Linked DNA regions of Homo sapiens. The protein of the gene in region 2 interacts with the protein of the main gene of each other region in a biochemical or structural test. Each region holds a gene or a part of one and is shown on either strand. Other genes may lie near its edges. The genes, in order: PDZK1 and GUCY2C.

Evidence for each region.
Region 1: the proteins of GUCY2C (region 2) and PDZK1 form a complex in vitro, tested with the Homo sapiens proteins (one study listed by IntAct).

The regions. Positions count from the first base shown.
Region 1 is NC_000001.11:145,673,874-145,684,491, forward strand, and holds part of PDZK1 (Na(+)/H(+) exchange regulatory cofactor NHE-RF3), read right to left. Parts: intron 8,764-10,618; coding exon 8,627-8,763; intron 7,235-8,626; coding exon 7,039-7,234; intron 4,773-7,038; coding exon 4,576-4,772; intron 2,341-4,575; coding exon of another isoform or gene 2,285-2,340; intron 454-2,284; coding exon of another isoform or gene 397-453; intron 9-396; coding exon 1-8. UniProt on the Homo sapiens protein: A scaffold protein that connects plasma membrane proteins and regulatory components, regulating their surface expression in epithelial cells apical domains.
Region 2 is NC_000012.12:14,614,288-14,624,905, forward strand, and holds part of GUCY2C (guanylyl cyclase C precursor), read right to left. Parts: intron 7,911-10,618; coding exon 7,718-7,910; intron 6,930-7,717; coding exon 6,755-6,929; intron 5,469-6,754; exon of another isoform or gene 5,451-5,468; intron 5,087-5,450; exon of another isoform or gene 5,023-5,086; coding exon 4,924-5,022; exon of another isoform or gene 4,865-4,923; intron 2,441-4,864; coding exon 2,346-2,440; intron 657-2,345; coding exon 580-656; intron 284-579; exon of another isoform or gene 235-283; intron 1-234.

The DNA.
Region 1 (10,618 bases), on a different chromosome or scaffold from region 2:
AAATGAGCCTTTTGAAAAATAAAGGGAAAAAACATTAACTTAGTTGTAACCATGAGTAAGTTATACTTTGTTAAATGTGCTGATTTTTAAGGTATCATACATATTCCACTCTTCTTCTGGATGTGTCTGATTGTAGGCTGTAAAATTCCTCTACTACCCCAACCAGGAAAGGTATAAAAGAAGACTGTGCTTCGTTATGGAGTAATATGTGTATACATGTACACAAATGCACACATGAACATAAAAGCAGTATAGGATGCGGTACAAGGATCCCAAAAGAAGTCTAAAAAATTGCTAGTTTCTTTTGAGTGAGTTCATGATAGTGAGCAAGTCACTGAACAAGCTATACATAATCTCCCTGTTGGGAAATGACATATCTGACCGACTAGCCGGTACCTCATGCAGAGTACATTCTTCTGGCTTTTCCTTTCGGTAAGATGGTCTTCAGAGCTCCTTAAACACATTAGAAAAAGTAAAACACAAGACACTTGTGATAGTTAATTTTAGATGCCAACTTGACTGGATTAAGGAATACCTAGAAGCCCGGCAAAGCATTATTTTGGTGTGTGTCTGTGAAGGTGGTTCCAGAGGGGATTAGCATGCGAGTCTGAGTGAACTACAGAAAAGGCAAAGGTGTCAGTCTGTCTGCTAGAGCTGGGATACCCTCTTCCTCTCCTGTGCTTGGACATCAGAATTCCTGGTTCTCCGGCCTTTGGACTCTAAGATCTACAGCCGCAGCCCCCCAGATTCTCAGGCCAAATGCACAGAAGCAAACAAGTAGGACTGCCAATCAGGGGTGATGCCAGTAATGTGGCTCAGTCAGATTTGGACGGAGCCACACTACTGGCATCCCAGGGTCTCAAGCTTGAAGACAGCCTGTCGTGGGGCTTCTCAGCCTCCATAATCATACAAGCCAATTCCCCTAATTAATCTCCTCTCATACCTGTATCTATATCCTACTAGATCTGTCTCTCTGGAGAATGTTAATATAACACTATTTTTATCACTATCCAAAGATTCAAAGCTACTAGAAGAGACCAACCCATATACACAGGAATAATTGGTGAGAGGGTGACAGCTGTTATATGGTCACATATTGTAACAAAAGTTAATTCCAACCCTTTGCTGCTTGCCAATACCCTCCCCTTCCAGACCTGGGATCTGTGCTTATTTATTTTGCTATGTATTGTTGTAAGCATTAGCTGTCACTTCTATTATGCCAAACTCTCCAACATCTTTAAATACTCCTAATTCATATCAACTCCCAGACCATCCATGTAAAGAAATGATGATCTTGAATACCGAAGAGGCATAGAACAGGAAACAGGATTGATTTTTTTGTAATAGAATTACAAGCCTAACTGGCTGTTTTAGTTGAGACAATTAGAAGGGTGGACCTGGGTATGGTGTGATCCTGGATCAGCAGCTAAATGGCTGCCCACACGTGTCCGGAACATTTGTTAGGTGATGAGTAGGAAATCAAGCAATGGAAGGTGAGCACAGTGTGGGCTCTACTTCAAATCGCACTGTTTAGCAGCCTGACTAAAATTAGATTTTTAGTCCTCTGGTTATCATGTGTCTTACTAACCACAAGACCACATCTCCTTCCTTTCTAAGTGAGAATACCACCAGCACAGAACCTCCTAGTTACCCAGTTCAACTAACTTCAGACCTTTCAGTCATATACTTGCAACAGTTCCACAATGGAGCCTTTCTCTTTAAAATATGGAAAATTATCAGGTGACTCATTACATGCAAAAATACGTCTGATAACACTACCCAAACAAGCAAATCAACTGTATCTGACAGTCGCAGCTCATCTCGAGGCAAAGTGCAATAACATTAAAACACTTGAGATTTTGGCCGGGCTTGGTGGCTCATGCCTGAAATCCCAGCACTTTGGGAGTACAAGGTGGGCGGATCACTTGAGGTCAGGAGTTCGAGACCAGCCTGGCCAAAATGGTGAAACCTCATTCTCTACTAAAAATATAAAAATTAGCCAGGTGTGGTAGCACACACCTGTAGTCCCAGCTACTTGAGAGACTGAGGCAGGAGACTCACTTGAACCTGGGAGGCAGAGGTTCCAGTGAGCTGAGAACATACCATTGCACTCCAGCTTGGACAACAGCGGGAGACTCTGTCTCAAAAAAAAAAAATGAGATTTTATTCATGCTTCATTCAGATAATTGGGTGTCTAGTATGTGCCAGGGACTGCTAGAGGGTTGTGTTTTACTCACTGATGTATCTCAAAGATCTACCCTCCACCCCAACCTACAGGGCTTACTTTGGAGAGCGGGGAAGGAGATGATGAGGGCAGGCTTCTTTTTCGATCAAAGTTCTCTATTAACCAAAACAGAAAAATTACAATTAAATCATTCTATGATAAGATCAGGAGGGGTCAGAATCCCCTTTACAACAAACAGCTGCAGCAGCCGCCTCTGATTTCTGCTTGACTTTCCACCAACTGCAAAATGACTCATCATTTCTGGCAGCTTCAGTTGGTTCTTAAGCCAAAAGCTAGCTCCCTATGGCTTCTCTGGTCCTGTTGTGCCCCATAGGACACCTTAAAAAAAATGTGTGGCCCGGGCGTGTTGGCTTATACCTGTAATCCCAGCACTTTGGGAGGCCGAGGCGGGCGGATCACAAGGTCAGGAGATCGAGACCATCCTGGCCAACATGGTAAAACTACTAAAATACAAAAAATTAGCTGGGCATGGTGGTGCGCACCTGTAATTCCAGCTACTCAGGAGGCTGAGGCAGGGGAATCGCTTGAACCCGGGAGGTGGAGATTGCAGTGAGCTGAGATGGCACCACTGCACTCCAGCCTGGTGACAGAGCAAGACAACGTCTCAAAAAAAAAAAAAAAAAGTGTGCTCCTTCTTACATGTAATAGCCTTTCAAATTCTTGAAGATGCTCTCTTCTCCAAAGCCTTACTCAAGCTAAATACTCACATGGTGGCTTCCAAAACCTCTTCCCTGGTTACCCTTGTCATTGCCTTCTTAAAGTGAAGTTCTTGAAACCGGACACAATATTGATTGAACAAATAGAACATTTAGATGTGTGAGGCATTATTCTACATGCTCTGAATATTCCAATTCAACCCTCATAGCCACCCTTCGCTGTAGCTACTACCCCTCTCTTACAACTAAGGAAACTGAAGCACAGAGAGAGGTGGTAACTATATTACCAGGTATTCCAAGTATGGTCTGACCAAGTAAGTACAGTAAGATGGTCATCTCTAGAAGCCAAGTGTCTGTCAGTTAATTTTTAAATTACCATATTTGGATGGGGCAACCACTTGGACTATGAAGTTTCTGGTCTTTTTCTGTAGTCCTCAAATCAGGTCTCACCATGTGGTATTCATACAATTTACTTTTAGGTTAGTATAGTACATCTGAAATTTATTCTTATTTCTTTAGTTTTCATTCTTTCTATCCTAACTAAATATTTTGAGTATTAATTACACCATCCAGCAAATGAATTATCTAGTGCCACTTTAAGTATGTTAATATATTTTCCATATCTCCTTTCAACTTTAAGCACATAAACGGTTAGGAACAAGTAGCATGCCATTAGAGACTTCTATTCAAGTTGATATTCAGGTTGATATCAAGTATTTTCTAGGTATGATTGTTCAAGTAGCTAAAAAAAAAAAGCCATTAATCTAATTAATTGTTTAATCCTGCTTACAAGATTATCTTGAAAAAATGTGCTGGGGAGTATGGTATAATGAATTACGGGTCCAAGAATTTGGGTTCAGATACCACCTTCAGTCTTTACTAAGCTGCGTGACTTTAGCAAAGTGCTTAGTCTCTCTAAGCTTCGGTTTCCTAATCTATGAGGAGGGCCTAAGATATCACCACCCATCATATTCCCCCCTCTGTACCGCTTATTTTAGATTCTACTATCATTGTATATCACAGAGGACATTTATCTTGTTCATCTTTACAATCAACACTTAGCAAGACAGATGGTACTTAGAAGGCCCCCCAGGTTATCTGTTAAACTAGACAACCTCAGTTCTTGTGTTAAAAGTAAAAAAAAAAAAAAAAAAAAAAAAAAAAACCTTAAAACATGCAGTAGTGGGTGTTATGATAAAGAGCTGTTAAGAGAAAATAAAGTTAGTTTGATTCAGGTTGGTCTTGGTCTATCTGTGTTTCTTTTTTATTTGCTAAGGGCTTACAAGTTGTTTAATAATCCTTTCTAGGCTTTTATGTGCAGTTGATAGCACTTAACTGACCTAAAGCTTAAAATCTAATTGTTTCCTATTTTGGGAACAATTTTATTTCCAGGCTTATATTCTCCATAGATTTTCTCAGATCACCAAGAGTAAGCCTGCAGTTATATTCACAAATTCTTTCAAAATCTTAAGACCAAGGACTTAAAACTCATTTATCAATCATTTGGCATTCTCTTATCACTACCAATTTGAGTTGAGCTTCAGTTTAGCCTTAATGATGATTGTTATGCCTCTTCCAGTTTGAGGAACAAAGTCCTAACTCAGTGCAAAAGTTGAGGTCATGAGTGAATGGGCCCAGCCTTAATGCATGAATATATGGCCTTGTATTACTTACCAGTCTGTACATGTTGTCCGTCTCTTTGTCTACCACCAACAGTGAAGTCTGATCTCCACCCTTTCTAATCATTTCTACCACACTGTCATGATCCAGGGTTTCCACAGACTCGCCGTTGACAGCAACTACCAGATCATTGTTCTTCAAGCCAGCCTCCTCTGCTGGACTTCCAGAATCTATGTCCTTGATGATTTGACCTACCCTCCCCCAACCCCAAAAAATAAAATTATCAGTAAGTCCCCTAAAAAAATAAAACAGATTTTCTGCTGGAGCCCAAAGCCCTGATGAAACAGATAAAAAAGGCATGCTGAGTACAACTACCACCCCTTCCACCAGCATCCCAGGAAGCTTATAAGCACACTATCTAGGCTCGTTTCCTGCTCAGAACTCACCCCAGAAACTAACCCAGCAATTAACAATGAAGGGGTCTTAACGAAAATAATCCTGTTACTAAAAGCGTCTGACATTTGATTTTGGCAAAATAGCATATTAAAAGGCTGCAAGTTCCCAGAAAGTCAGTGGGCATACTTGTAGCCACGCGTCTTATGTAAAAGCTGTCATAAAAGATGGGGAAGAATAAAGAACAAAACCCAAAACTTTGGACCTTAAGAAACCCAGGCTGGCATTTTAGTAGCAATTGGGTGTGTTCGGTTTTGAATATATTTGTATATACATGCCTCCATGTGCTTTGGCCTTCTGGTATCTTCACCAGATGCTGCCTTTTTTTTTTTTTTTAACAAGTTCCTGTTTCACTTTTCCAGCTAGCTGCTGGGTATCTCCAACAAAATATCTCATAGATCTCTCAACTGTAATGTATTCAAGCCAAAAATCAGCTCTGCCCATTCTCCATCCCAAAGCCCCTCCTCTTGGTTACCTGTTAGTGGAGCAACATCATCCCAGTCACCAACACTTGGCAACTGATTCTTCCCCAGCATCCAGTCCCCATATCTAGACGATTGCTAAGTCCTCTGATGCTACCATAATACCTTACACATCCCACTTCCTCTACCCTGAATGCAGTTTGTATTAGTTCCTGCCTAGAATTCTACCTAAACTATTACAGCACCTTACCTACTGCTTTCCCTTCCCCAGTCCTTCTGTCTGATACAGATCTGCCTTCAGATCCATCTTGGTGCACATTCCTAACCAAGTCACTTCCTGGTGCAACAGAATGAGCATGGGCTTTGGAACTAAACAACTATTTGACCTTACATAATTACTGTATCTTCTCCAAGCCCTCAATTTCAGCAGTTCTTCTTGCATAATTGTTAGGAGTAATTGAGATGTGCAAAGCCCCCAAGACATTATAGGCTGGTTTTTGTTCTTCTCCCTTATACTGCTCAAAAAACAACTCCCCATTGTCTGATAAGCCAAGTTCAAACTCATCAGTCTTGCATAGAAGTCCCCTTGTCACCTCTCTCCAACCTACCTTTCCAACGAATTCTTGTACTACACATCATGTGCCAATTAAACTGTGCCAGTGTCTCCTGACTGTGTTCACATGATTCCCACCTTCCTGGAATGATCTTCCTTATCCCAGCTCTGTCTACTTTCCCAAATCTATTCATGTTACAAAGCCTGAACTCAAGTGCCACCCCTACTATGAGGGCTTCTGGTACCTTTTTAGTGAGAAAAGCTTACTCTAACGTTGAATTATCACAGTGCTTGATCTGCCCCTGTATGAAGGTACTTAACCTCTATCTCCCTTCATTATGGACATATCTCTTATCTACTAAATGGTAGACTCCTTCACTAAAGAATTCCTGTCTGCTTCATATGATATTCTTTCTCCAAGGCACTGAGGATGTTTTTACAAAACACAAACCAAATTAATATTTGATAAATTAATGTAAACAGAGAGTGAAAAGAAAATAACAACTTATGGGCGAATAGCAGTTTATACGGCCCGAACTCATGTTCTTTTATGTATTTACCTTCCCTGAAAGAACCTAGTGTTCTTCCTATTGAGTTGCAAGGAAGGAGGACTCCTGGTTCTGAGTCCCAAATCCTCACCCACACCTCGGCCTCAGGTCCAGCGGTGTGCTATACTGGCTCACACCGGCTCACAAAAGCCAATTCTGTGCAACACTTCATTGTGTTCAGTGACATCGTGTTAGTAAGTTGAAACTGGACATGGGAGGAGTATTTACATCACAAAATACTACCAATTTGGTACCAAAAACAAACGCTACCAATTTGGATTTCCCCCCACCCCCGCCCCAGAGAGCTAACTTACCAGGATACCGTTGCCCAGATCCCAAATTCTGCCTTATCATAATGCTATGGAAACTTTTGATGCCCAACATCAGACCCTCATGTGACATAGACGCTGACCCAGCTGTGCCTTCTATGCTATGCCGCTCATGCATCTGGCTGGGAGTTGGGAACCTAATGGAACTCTGGAGTCAGAATGGGATGAGGAATTTGCTGGTTACTGCCAAGTTTCCTGCTCTTGTACCTTACCTTTCTGTTCTGAGCCTGCCCTCAGATAGAAACCATAGCCATTGCTTCCTTTCTTCATCTCCACAATTCGGGGCTGGTGGGGTAACAGTTTCAAACTGGCTGTTTCTCTTTTGAATTGTATCTTCTGCTCAACATGACGCTTGTCAGTTTCTTTGTCCACCAGCAGGAACATGACACGGCTTCCTGACTTCTTCACCTGTAACAACACACACAGATGAGGAATGACATCAACCCCCAAGAACAATGCTGGGGAATAAGAAAGTTTCTGTATAAAGGCACACAGTCTCTAGGTTCAACAAAAGATAGGGGATGAAAGGCCTGAGTTTAAGCTGTTACACTATGCCCTACCAGCTAACTGATATGTATTTATCGCCTTTTTTTTTTTTTTTGAGATGGAGTGTCACTCTTTCGCCCAGGCTGGAGTGCAGTGGCACTATCTCAGCTCACTGCAAGCTCTGCCTCCCGGGTTCACGCCATTCTCCTGCCTCAGCCTCCCGAGTACCTGGGACTACAGGTGCCCGCCACCGCACCTGGCTAAATTTTTTTTTTTTTATTTTTAGTGGAGACGGTGTTTCACCTTGTTAGCCAGGATGGTCTCGATCTCCTGACCTCGTGATCCACCCGCCTCGGCCTCCCAAAGTGCTGGGATTACAGGCGTGAGCCACCGCGCCCGGCCCCTATCTCCACTTCTATAGTTGTTTTCCCTTATTTAAGTATGACCTACCCACATAGGTGCTAACTGAGCCCAAGTAGGAGCTGGAATTCAGAAAACCCATAAAGGTACCTAGATAAAAGCTAGAAAGGGAGTTTGGAAAAGAAAAGAAAGTAAGGGTCCACGTCAAAAAATCATTCTACAAAGAGAAGGTTGGTCAATTTTTAAGGTTCCATATGACCTCAAAGGAAAATCTCGGTTATCTCCCACTTCCTATTAAAGCATTTCAGTATTAACGGCTCAACAGTGAACTTATTGTAAATTCAGAGGGCGCAGTGGCACACGCCCATAATCCCAGCACTTTGGGAGGCCAAGGCGGGCAGATCACTTGAGCTCAGGAGTTCAAGACCAGCCTGGCCAACATAGTGAGACCCTATCTCTACAAAACACACACACACACACACACACACACACACACACACACACACATAAAAATTAGCCAGGTGCGGTGGTGCACACCTGTAGTCCCAGCTACTCAGGAAGCTGAGGTAGAAGAATCATCTGAGCCCAGGAGGCCGAGACTGCAATGAGCCGAGATTGTGCCACTACACTCCAGCCTGGGTAACAGAGTGAGACCCTGTCTCAATCAAACAGTTCAGAGGGGGCTCCCAATCAGATACAAACAAGATCCAAAAGGTAAAGTTAATAATTTTGTAGACCTCATGTGAAACTAGGGAAGGCTTTATTCCAAAACCCTATATTAACACTGCTTATACCACTAGTGTGAGTCTGTTCACCCTTAATATGAAGGGGCAACTCAACTGGATATTTTTTCCATCATAAACTCATGCTGTCCCCTACCACCCCTGTCTTCCTGTCACCTCCAATGAGAATAGAGTGGAAGATAGGGTAAGAAAAGTACCCTTTGGGGCATACCTTTTCAACCACTTCCTCATGGCTGGCATCCTCTACATTCTCTCCATTCACTTCAATCAAGTGATCATCAGCCAGAACTCCAGCTCTCATAGCCACACCTTGAGGTGTAATATCAGTCATGTACACCCCCTTTTTACCTGGAAGAGAGTAGGGGTAAACTCCATGTGGAGACACAAGTGACTCCCTCTTGGATGGTAATCTGTGATGTTGACTTCTGATTAGCCCCAGTCCTGTGATTGCCTCCCGATTTCTACTTCATTTACTGTCCCTAGTCTAAGAACATGTCAACCTTAATGTTATCACGCAAATTATAGGCTATGATGCACTATAGCATTCTTGGCTATTGCGGAGGGCTGCCTTCGATTGTCTTGCTGGAGCACATATACCCTTTCCCTATGGTATATCAGCCTTGGGTCTGGGGAGTAACACAGAGATCTACATGTTTTGTGGCTGTCCAAGACCATGCTTCTGTTCGTAAGTTCCCCTGATAAATTCCAATGTACCAACAAACTGGATTTGCCTGCCTTGTCCTTTGGTTTCTCAGCTCCTTTGGCCTTTGAGGGACTGCTTTGCATACACCACCCTTTCACAGAACACTCCATTGCAAAGAAAAACTCGAAATCCAATGGTAAAGACTTTTCTCCCAATAATGTGAAACAAACTTCCGATTTTAGAGCTAACTCGGCCTTTGGCTTCTGATCTAAAATCACAGTTATAGGTCCTGGCACTGAACTTGACACAGCCTTTACTCAGTGGGTATTTGTTGATTTGAATAGAATTTCTGAGGTCAGCTAAATGCAAAGATGGAATCTTGGGTGGCCTTGGCCCCTTGAACCAGAAAGCGCTAAAACATGCCCACACTGCATTATTGTGTCATACGCCCTTTCTTTGCATTTGTAGAATCAGAAAGCATCTTTACCATTCTCTCCTCTTCAGTTTGTACTATTATATTAGCCATCGTATGCTGTGGAGTCATCTCACCAATGTAGGCTAACAAGGACAGGCACAGGAGGGAGGGAAGAACCCGAATGCATTTAGGTGGTGAGATTTAGGTGCTACTTATAGAAATGCTGTCAATTCTTCAAAGATATTAATAGAGCAGTTCCCCCTTAACCATGGGGGATACATTCCAAGACCCCCAGTGGAGGCCTGAAACTTTAAGATAGTATACCGAACCCTATATGTTTTTTCCTGTGCTTACATACCTACAATAGAGTTTAACTTATAAATTAGGCACAGTAAGAGATTAACAATAACTGAGCTAATCTTAGCAACCTCAGCATACAGTATTTTTTCTTTCCTTATTAAATCGAGAACTTTTCACTTAATAGAAGCACTTTACAGCCTTTTTTTTTTTTTTTTTAACAGATGGAGTCTCGCTCTGTCACCTAGGCTGGAACGCAGGGCCGCAATCTTGGCTCACAGCAACCTCTGCCTCCCCGGTTCAAGCGATTCTCCTGCCTCAGCCTCTCGAGTAGCTGGGACTACAGGCGCCTGCCACCGCGCCTGGCTAATTTTTGTATTTTTAGTAGAGATGGGGTTTCGCCATGTTGGCCAGGCTTGTCTCGAACTCCTGACCTCAGGTAATCCACTCGCCTCGCACTCTCAAAGCGCTAGGATTACAGATATGAGCCACTGTGCCCGGCCACTTTACAGCTTCTCTTTGTCATATCTGAACTGCCAGCATCACTATCCTTGCATTTTTGGCTTTTTTTTTTTTTTTTTTTGAGACGGAGTCTTGCTTTATCGCCCAGCCTGGAGTGCAGTGGCGCAATCTGAGCTCACTGCAACCTCCGCCTCCCGGGTTCACACCATTCTCCTGCCTCAGCCTCCTGAGTAGCTGGGACTACAGGCGCCCACCACCACACCCGGCTAATTTTTTGTATTTTTAGTAGAGACAGGGTTTCACCGTGTTAGCCAGGATGGTCTCGATCTCCTGACCTCATGATCTGCCCGCCTCGGCCTCCCAAAGTGCTGGGATTACAGGCGTGA
Region 2 (10,618 bases):
GGTAGAAGCTCATACCCAGACTCAGGAAACTTTTAACTCATTCTTGTCTAATATATAGTATATTTTCTGCATAAACTATAAGTTAAGTATACTTTAATGCAGATAAGGCATTTAAAACATAATTTTGACAGTTAAAAATATCATGAATACAGAGCCAGTAAATAAAATGAAATAAATGAAATAACAAAATCTCCTCAAGTTCTAAATAGTCTGTTCATTCTTCCTCTTTTCCAGGTGGAAGCTCCCTCTTGGGATAAAGGATCCACAGTGGAAAAAAAAAAAGGTAGTTTTATACTGAGCCCCCACATCTGATTCAGGGAAGCAAGTCTGTGTTCCAGACAGGGAAGCCAAGGCTAAATACTTTTCTGTTTCATTGAGGTCTCAGGAAAATGCAGGGTTTCAGGATAATCCCCTTCTTGCAGTCTAGGAAGGGAGGTTTCTAAACCTTCTCATGTATAGTCCCTTACTTCTTATGCAATATATGCCACTTGTAAGGCATTTGCCAATTTAAATTGGCTGTAACTAACAAAGCCAAGATCTCTAATTTCCTCCCTGTCCCTGCCACACCCAGAAGCTTACACAGTAGGAGGGGTTGGCAGGTTGAATTTCTGGTCCTTCATCCCAGTCAGCCAGTAGGTAGTCTCATTTCCTCTTCCCTGGTAAGACAAAAGAGTTACGTACCACGGAGTCCAAGGAGTCAGTTCAGTTGTAGACCACTGTTTCCATAATGATCTGTTTCTGTGACATGTTTCACTTCCGCATTTCTCATCAGTGCCAATATTTAAGCACATCACACATTCCTGTTATGATTTGCATTATCTCTAGACAGATTTTTATTTCCAAGTGCCTTTTTAAAAATAAGTTTCTCATTCAGCAGACATCCTTTTCTCAAAGTAGAGTTTTCTTTTTTTTCCCCAAAAGACATTTTAAAATATCACTCTAGCAACATCACAAGAACTCTAACTTAAAAAGGAAGAAAATTCATCTACAATTCTGCTACGTCAACAAATCCAACTGGTTGTCATTGTCCATATTTCCTTCTAGCCCTTTTTGCAATAAAGTTTTGCTACAAAACTTTTGCTACAGTTTCCCTATCTTATTACAAACACATGTACATCACAATTAAGAACTCATTAAGTGGCATTTCTGGGGCCCATCTGGAGGCTACGGAATGTATGGAAATTTACTGGAATACTGGAAACCCTGTTTTTGCTAAAGCTGGTATTTGAAAAAGAGATACAAAATACATATGGCCCAAACACAGCCAGTGAACCACTATTTTTAAAAAATGAGTTTAATAATATATATCTATAATATATATCAATAATTTAAAAATGAGTGATTGATATATATATATATATAATTGATATATATTGTTAAACTCATTTAAAAAAGTAGTGGTTCACTGGCTGTGTTTGGACCATAGCAATCCATAAACTGGTTCTATTTTGGGGTAAGTGTTCTTTGTAAAAAATGTACTTATGGAGGACTCAAAAAGCAAGTGTGATGTTAGGACACTTTTACGTAAAAGGAGACTTTTCCAAGGTGCAATCCAAATGTAAAGGCCAGAAGCATTATGGCTACCGGAGACAGGTAACTTACAGTTAATAGCTGGCTTTGCCAGTTGTGAAAAGATTCCAATAACTTTGGAAAAGCAGCCTGAGAAGCATTTGGAGACAACTGATGGCTATGGAGGGCAGCTGTTTTAAATGTGAGGAACTGCATGAAGAATCTGGAATAGCGATTCTCAAATATTAGTGTGGTCACAAACACATTATCTTGTTAAAAATATAGATTTCTGATCTACGCCCACAGAGAATCTTGCATAGTAGGCCTGGTAGAGTGTCCACACATCTGCATTTTAACAAGCTTCCAGATGAGGAAGAGGAGGAGAATGGGGCCACACCTTGTCATTCACTCCTTGTGATTCTAGAGCTTCCGAATAGTAAAGCAACTGGCAAGAGAGGTGACCTCAGATCATAGCAGCAGTGTGTAGTAAGAGTAGGGAAGTAAGTGGGGGGACAAGGGTTTTGATTCAAATTAAATAAGTCCTGGACCAGACTGTATGTAGCTCTTGTGTTTGGAGGAGGAACTGGATACAAAACCTGGATATGGCAGAGGAAATGCTGGCAGAGTTCAAAATCTCAAAAGGGCTCTTTGGAGTAAAGGCAAGTTTTGAGTTCACATTTTTTGGTGGTCATTTCTCTTGCAGAGGATGGAGGGTGCTCATCGTGATGAGTACAGAAGAGGATTAGCATGCTCAACTTTCCTGGCCAAGTCTCAAAGGAGGTGGCCCAAGCGTGTCTGAGAGCTTTTCCTATGCATTGTCTCTGTGGACTCCTTACCTTTAAGTATGTTTCTCCTCTCACTTCATAAAGGAACTGGCACTCAGTTCTCTTCAGGATGGCTATGGTGGAGCCACTCACGTGAATTCTCAAAGCTGGAAATGCAAATTGACAAATAAAAATCCCAGCTAGTACACAGCCTATTTGTTTCCCGTTGATTCAGGATATCAACAACACCTGAGACAAGAATCCTAAATCAAGAAGAAACAATTGTGGCTATTTTAATGAAAGAACACTTAAAAATAACATCAGAGAGATAAGAAATGGTATAGTTTGGATATTTGTCCCCACCCAAATCTCATGTTGAATTTTAATCCCCAGTGCTGGAGTCCTGGCCCCCGACCAGGTGTCTGGGTCACAGGGGTGGATCCCTCATGGCTTGGTGCTGTCTTTGCGATACTGAGTTGTCACAAGATCTGGTCATTTAAAAAGGTGTGGCACCTGCCCCTGCCACTCTCTTTCTTACTCCTGCTTTTGCTGTATGAAGTGCCTGCTCCTGCTTTGTCTTCTGCCATGAGTGAAAGCTTCCTGAGGCCTCCCCAGAAGCAGATGCAGGTGCTATTCTTCCCTTACAGCCTGCAGAACCATGAGCCAATTAAACCTCTTTTCTTATAAATAACCCAGTCTCAGGTTTTTCTTTATAGCAATGCAAGAATGCCCTCACACAAGAAATATAATCTCACGTGGGAAGAAAGAAGGCCTGGCATCAGTTTTCAGGGCCCTGCGTGATGTGATGGGGATCCCTAGGTTTTTCTCCATAGATTCTCATTCCAGCTCAGAGTAGTAGCCTGCGGGACCTAGTTTTAGATTTGGCTTGTAGTGCCAAGCTTGGGTGTTGGAGTTTGGTTTTGGGTCCCTGTGGAAAAGTTCCAATAAATAGCTAAAGCCTTGTGGGCAAGGTGAAGATTCGGGAGAGTTGAGGGGTCTTGATTTTCTCAAATTTCCTTCTTCTGGAACATTGTTATCCTTTGACAAAAGAAGTGGTGAGGGCACGCCCATTCACAAGTCCATTGATGTGTATCACCTTTCCCAATATAGGGGCCTAATAGCAATACCACAAACAATTACACAGTAAGAATAATGACAATCCCAAATTGTATACCTACCATGTACCATGATTGCTAAACGCTTAACATGACATCATCCCAAATTATTTCAGAAACCCTCTTGGCACGGTTGGTATTCCATTTTCAATTTGTATCTTTATCTTTCTGAGGGCTAGAAGGATCAGGTAGCTTTCTACTCAACTTATACTGAGAATGATTAACATAATTTCAATTGTAACCCAAGTCTGTCTGACCCCAACCTTATCCTTTTCCTTGCCAGCATGATTTGCCAGGACAAACTAGTATCACATTGTCAGTACACTACCAAAATACCATCCTGCCTCCTGTGGTTTCGTAAGCCCCAGCCATGTCTCCCAGTGCTTATTTTCTCTCTTCTATATATTTCTACTGCTACCACTGTCATCAATATTTATTGAGCATCTACTTCATGCAGCACATTGTGCCTCTACCTTGCCAAGCAAATGCAATATATTCCTTCGTATATAACAAATGCTTAGATTTTTCTTTACTAAAATCAATTCTTGGTTGGGTATGATGGCTCTTGCCTGTAATTCCAACACTTTGGGGCTTTGGGGGACCAAGGCAGGAGACTTGCTTGAGCCCAGGAATCTGTGACCAGCCTAGACAACATAGAGAGACCACACCTCTACAGAAAAAATTAAAAAATTAGCTGTGCATGGTGGCATGCCTGTAGTCCCAGCTACTTAGGAGGCTGAGGTGGGAGGATCACTAGAGCTGAGGAGTTCAAGGATGCAGTGAGCTGTGATTGTGCCACTGTGCCAAAGCCTAGGCGACAGAGTGAGACCCCATCTCAAACAAATAAACAAAAATCAATTTCCAGAAAAAACGAATATGCTTTGGGAGGCCAAGGTGGAAGGACTCCTTGAGGTCAGGAGTTTGAGACCAGCCTGGGCAACATAGTGAGACCCAGTCTCTATTAAAAATTTAAAAATTATCTGGATGTGCTGGTATGTTCCTGTAGTCCCAGGTACTTGGGAGGATGAGGTGGGAGGATCACTTGAGCCCAGGAGTTCAAGTTTACAGGGAGCTATGATCGTGTCACTGCACTCCAGCCTGGGTGACAGAACGAGAGCCTGTCTCTAAAAAACAACAACAAAAAAGCAAAACCAAATAAGAGGGAAACAGGAATGTGAACCAGAGTGTGTAGTTCTTACCTTGCCTACTGATTTTTTTTTAACTTTCATGAATCTATGGTAAATGCCAGGACTATTCTAAGTAGAATATCCCCAGATTCATTGTATATGAGCCAAAAATATAGAAATAGTCTAAAACTGAGCAAAAGTGGAAGAATAAAATAATTATCAGTAAACAACAATGAAAGCAAATGTAGCAAAAGGTGGATTGACACGGGTTTGTGTTCAGCTAATGTGAAGAATTATTCTACATCTCACTGGCACTTTGTATCTCCTTATTGTGCATTTTATCTCACAGTTGCCCTCTGCTGGAAAACAGCATCTTTGTCCTCTGAGAAAAACAGTCTCCCTTCTTACGGAGGCCAGTGGATTCCATCCTAGAGGCTGTGTTGACCGTATCTCCAAATAGACAATAACGAGGCATCTTGATTCCCACAACTCCAGCAGCACAGGGACCTGAAATGAAGGACAGAAAGCAGGAAGTGGAGGCAATAGAAATTGCAGAGTAGAGTGAAGACAGGTAAGCCTCTCTGTATGGTCACAATCCTGAATACTTCCTGTCATGGAGAAGTAGCTGAGGATGTGAAATGTGAGCTGGGACTTTTGGTTTAAATGGATGAATCCAATGAAGCATCATTATTCAATGCATGCGATCATAAAGTATTTTGCTCTCGCAAAGAAAACGACATTTGTAGCAAATAGGAAGGCATTCAGAGATCCAGATCACAAAGGTGATTTTAAATAGAAGGCTCTCAGGAAGGATGAAGATGAGCCCCACTGCTTGCTTACTGTGCCAAACCACACAACCCTGAATTTCACACTGCTGGAGGGCACTGTAGATTTGAAGCTTCAATGGCTCAAGTTTGTTTTATTTTTATTTTAAGGTGGCATTTCTGGGATTGGTGCCATGACAATGGAAGACAGAAGACAAGACAAAGGCATAACTTTCCGTAAGCATTTCATGGACCAGGCGAATGCAGCTGGATGGGGAAGCCTGTGGCACAAGGAGGTTCCAACAAGCAGAACAAAAGCCCAGGCTAGACTATGCGCTGTGGCATATTAGGTAGGAAATAAGGGTTATTCAGTCATGTATTTGCATAGAATGACTGAGTGCAAGGTGTTAACAGTTTCAGAAGTTAAAGATTAACTCAAAAACTGCAAAGCTGAGTTTTAAGCAATGCCTGGCTAAAGATTCATCTAGATGACTTCTGAGTTCCTCTCTTACAGGTGTTTTTTCTATAACACCTGTAACTCATCTCAAACCTTGATGTTCAAGGCTGTTGAATTAAACTAAGTTTGGCCTGAGGCTGCCTCTTAGGGGTCCCTACAAAACAAACTGCAACCTAGCTTGGTACATAAACAAACTAAAAGCCTAACTAGGGTATACTTACGTTATAGATAGCTGAGTCTCAGCCAATCGCAGTAGCTGAGCTTCAGCCAGTCACAGGCTGTCAACTGATGGGACTTTGACCAAATCAGGGGAACACAGAGGTTTGACCAATCAAGTTGTTTCTGTCCCTCACTTCTGTTTTCTGTCTATAAACATTGCCCGCCCACCTTGCCCATTGAAGCTCTCTGAACCTCTTCTGGTTTTAAGGGCCATCTGATTTGAAAATTATTCTTTGCTCAATCAAACTGTGTTAAATTTAATATGCATAAGCTTTTCTTTTAACAAGGCTATGTAACTTTCATGGTCTTTGAAAGTGACTCATGTACTTTCTGTATAACTGCAGTGGCAGGGAAGGGAGGGGGTATAAATATTATAGAAATTTCACCATCTGTTCTTTATTTCCCCTTGTAGATAATCTAATCCACTTAAGATACTATAATATTTTAGTGGGAAAATATATTGAAGTTGGGGGTGGGGAGAAAGGGAATGGGGAGGAAATAAATGAAATCATAGGTATGGTGATTTAAATAGGAGTCCAAAGCTTCTTGTTTTCGTACATGTTTGGTGTTTATCATGTCAGCAGTCAGTGGTGCCCTCAAAGGTCTTGTTCTTAGAGTTCTCTAGGAACTGGGTCTAAATATCTCAGGATGCATAGTGGGACCTCACATTTGGCAAAAAGAATTAAGAGTAAAAATTATGTGAGGTCGATCACACTTGAAGACCTTTTATCCTTTCTGATTTAGTTGGTGCACAGCAGTACATATGGTTCCCAATTTGCTAAGATGCTCAACTCCATACCAGAGTGAACTCCAATGCGAATCCATATTGGGAGGCCAGGAAGATGCTCCAGCTCAAAGGTCCCCATGAAGCTGAGGATTTCCAAGGCCATCTTGGCAATGTCTATTGCATGCCGATTGCCATTTCTCTTAGGCAAACCACTAGCCACCATGTACGCATCACCGATGGTTTCCACCTGTGGAAACAGTTTCTCATGAGTGCCTCTGCCCCTTTGAAAAGTATAGAAAGTAAACAGAAGCAGTTAATCACATGTCAAACACAAAAAGTGATTTGGGAACACAGTATGAGCATAGCCCTTTACACTTTTTCTGGGGCCAGTTGGATCAGTTCTATGCTGATTTCTTCAGGGTTTTTATAGTCCAGTTAATGGGTGATAAAATAGCTATAAAGGAATTTAGCCATTTAAAAGTACTTCATAATTATATAAATTGTCCAGATGTGGTGACAGTTCTAGAAATGTTCAAATAAATAATCTGAATGGTTTTATGTAATTTGAGGAACACCCTTAGTTTCCTGAAAATTAATCCTTTAGCAAATGTCAACATACTATTTAACAGAATATTGTACTTTGTAATATGTAATTGTATACATTCTTGTAGTATGATTTTCTATTTATTATAACCCCAGTGTCTTCTCTGCTTCATTTGCAGTCAGCCTAAACACTGCCCATTTTTTGGAGGTGATTTAAGAGTATGCCATTTTGTCTAAATTTAATACTTCAAATTAATTCCTGCTGAACTTCCTGTTGTATCTTTTTTGCTGCTTCTTAAAGTTGAATGGTAATTTTGACTTCTCACTCCTCTAATCCTTCTACTTCTCTTCACTTTTAGCTCAGATTCAACCACCAATTCACTAAATGTGAAACTAGAGCGGTCAAGAGTAGTAACAGAAACAACCAATTCAGGCTCTGATGACCTTGAGTTGTACAATTAATGGTTTCAGCCTGTTAGGTGATGTGGTTACCTTGTAGACATCATGATGATCAACAATGTGGTCAAAACTCTTATAGATGTCATTAAGCATGTCCACCACTTCCATGGGGGTGCTGTATTTGCAGATAGTAGTGAAACCTACAATGTCACTGAAGTAGATTGTAACTTCCTCATATAGTTCCGGCTCCACAAAGCCTTTCTCCTTCAGAGACTTTACCACTAGCCTAGATGAACGAAGGGAAAAAAAATGCCTTCAACTTCAGCAAATTTCTTCTTGTTTCACATAAATCTTTCAGGTAGTAGTGATTGTCTACCAAGAATTCTAGAATTTGAGACTTCCAGTGAATTGAGTGAATCGGAAACAGAGGTTGTGTATATCATATACATGAACATATTACACAAATACACATATAATGCATGTTGTGAACACAGATGAATACAAGCAGGTTCAACATTAACTTAGTGTTTGATTATTAATCCTAATACACATAAATAGATAACTTTAATATCCTCAAAACTCTCATACATATACATACTTGTCCACTTTTTGCTTCTCTATTGATAATCAACCTCTTACAGATGTGGCTCTACATGCAGAAGCTGAGGAGAGTGTGGTATTACTTAAATCACCACAGGTATCAGATCTGAATTTCTCAACAAAGTTGATAGTTTTACTTTCCTGGCATATGTAATATGGCATTGCTTAATATTACTATGAAATAATGATGCATTTAAATATAAATTTTGATATATTCTGAACCAGAGTTCATTTGATATTTTGAACCAGATTTGGGTCCTTTGTAAAGCAGAATCAATCATGTAAATAAATTAAATCATGCTAAAACTGTAGAAGTCAAATTAAAGCAACTTTTAGAATATCTTTGCTGAATGAGGAGCAGCATATCAGATTCAAGATTGAAGGAAGAGAACCAGAAGAAGGGACTCCATACTTGGTGTGCCAAGTTACCTCTTCATTGAGAAAAGGAAGTGAGGGCTGACATGAAGTGGGATGGTCCCTGTCTGTCCTTGGCATCACTTTGTAGTGGCCCTCAGTATGGAACCACTAGAATCAGAAACTGGAAGCTGGGAGGTTCCACGGAAGTCATTGAAAAGAAATCTTTATTTTTACAGATGAGAAAGTTGAGGTCTAAAAAAGTATGACTTCCCTAAGTTCCCACAGCCGATTAGGGACAGAGCCAGGGCTAGAATTCAGGAAGCCTTCAGTCCCACCCATCAGTCTTTTTTTGCATTACACTCCCTGCACAACCCAGGCCTTGGATATTCAGGAAGATGGGGAAGATTTGGAGGTATGCTGACTGCAACAAAGGAGGTGGGCTCTCCCGGAAAGAAAACAACCAATCAACCACAAAGATTTCTAACACTCATTTGGAGAACCTCCAGAGTATCCGGAGAAACCTTTTTAATTGGTGCAATGACAAAACTTGGAACCTTTGAAAAACATTCCTTTGGTGTGGCTTGGATTCCTAGGTACACGACTGGAGTGGTTGTTCTTGACATGCCCTGTATAAAGTGCATAGTATTTTGGAGGCTGCATAGATGCAATGACAAAATTGGATATTCTGCCATATTTGCAATTCATTGTACTGCTTATATCTGAAAAGTCACATGAGTTTGGTGATATGGTTTGGCTCCGTGTCCCCACCCAAATCTCATGCTGAATTGTAATCCCCAATGTTAAGGGAGGGACCTGGTGGGAGGTGATGGGATCATGGGTGCAGATTTCCCCATTGCTGTTCCTGTGTTAGTGAGTTCTCATGAGATCTAGTTGTTTGAACGTGTGTGGCACCTCCCCCTTTGCTCTCTCTCTCTCTTCCTGCCATGCGAAGAAGGTGCTTGCTTCCCCTTCACTCTTCCACCATGGTTGTACATTTCCTGAGGCCTCCCCAGCCATGCTTCTTGAACACCCTGTGGAACTGTGAGTTATTTAAACCTCCTTTCCTCATAAATTACCTAGTCTCGGGTAGTTCTTTATAATAGGGTGAGAATGGACTATTACACTTGGAAAATAGTGTGTTATCCAGAGAGAGAAACTCATGTTGTAAATAAACGAAGGAAGGGCTGGGAGTTAACATGATGAGCTTTGATAACAGGTTGTTGCTGACATAGATAAAATTAGTATACAGAGTAGATCTCTTAGAAAGTCTTCCCAGAAGAAAAAACTTCTGGCCAGGCACAGTGGCTCACACCTGTAATCCCAGCACTTTGGGAGGCCGAGGTGGGTGAATCACCTGAGGTCAGGAGTTCGAGACCAGTCTGGCCAACATGGTGAAACCCCCTCTCTACTAAAAATGCAAAAATTAGCTGGGTGTGGTGGCAGGCGCCTGTAATCCCAGCTACTTGGGAGGCTGAGGCAGGAGAATTGCTTGAACCCAGGAGGCAGAGGTTGCAGTGAGCTGAGCTCATGTCGTTGCACTCCAGCCTGGGCAACAAGAGTGAAACTCCATCTCAAAAATAAATAAATTAATTAATTAAATAAAATAAAAATAAAAAAGAAGAAACTTCTATTTTAATGTATTTACCCCAAGGGGTACTATTCAAATAAATGTCTAAGTGATATCTGGTTCCTACATGCAATCTTAAGTTTATTTGCCCTTTGCTACACATATTTCTTTTTGATTCTTCTAGTTATTGCTCATGCATGTTTTAGTTTTATCTTGCGCATAAAATTTTTACATAAATAACCAAAGTGAGTTGTGCTGAAGCCATGGTGTATTGTAGCTCTTCAAGAGACTTGTGTGATATAACCTTTGGAAATCCAATAAAAACATCTACCAACTAGTAGTCCAAGTGGCATATTGAACTAAGGCTAGGAAAAAAGCTGAAATGGTGAGCCAGCTGATTCAAACCACTTGAGTGACATTAATGGTTAAAACCACCGCCAATGAAACCCTGGGAAGGCAGCCAGATAACC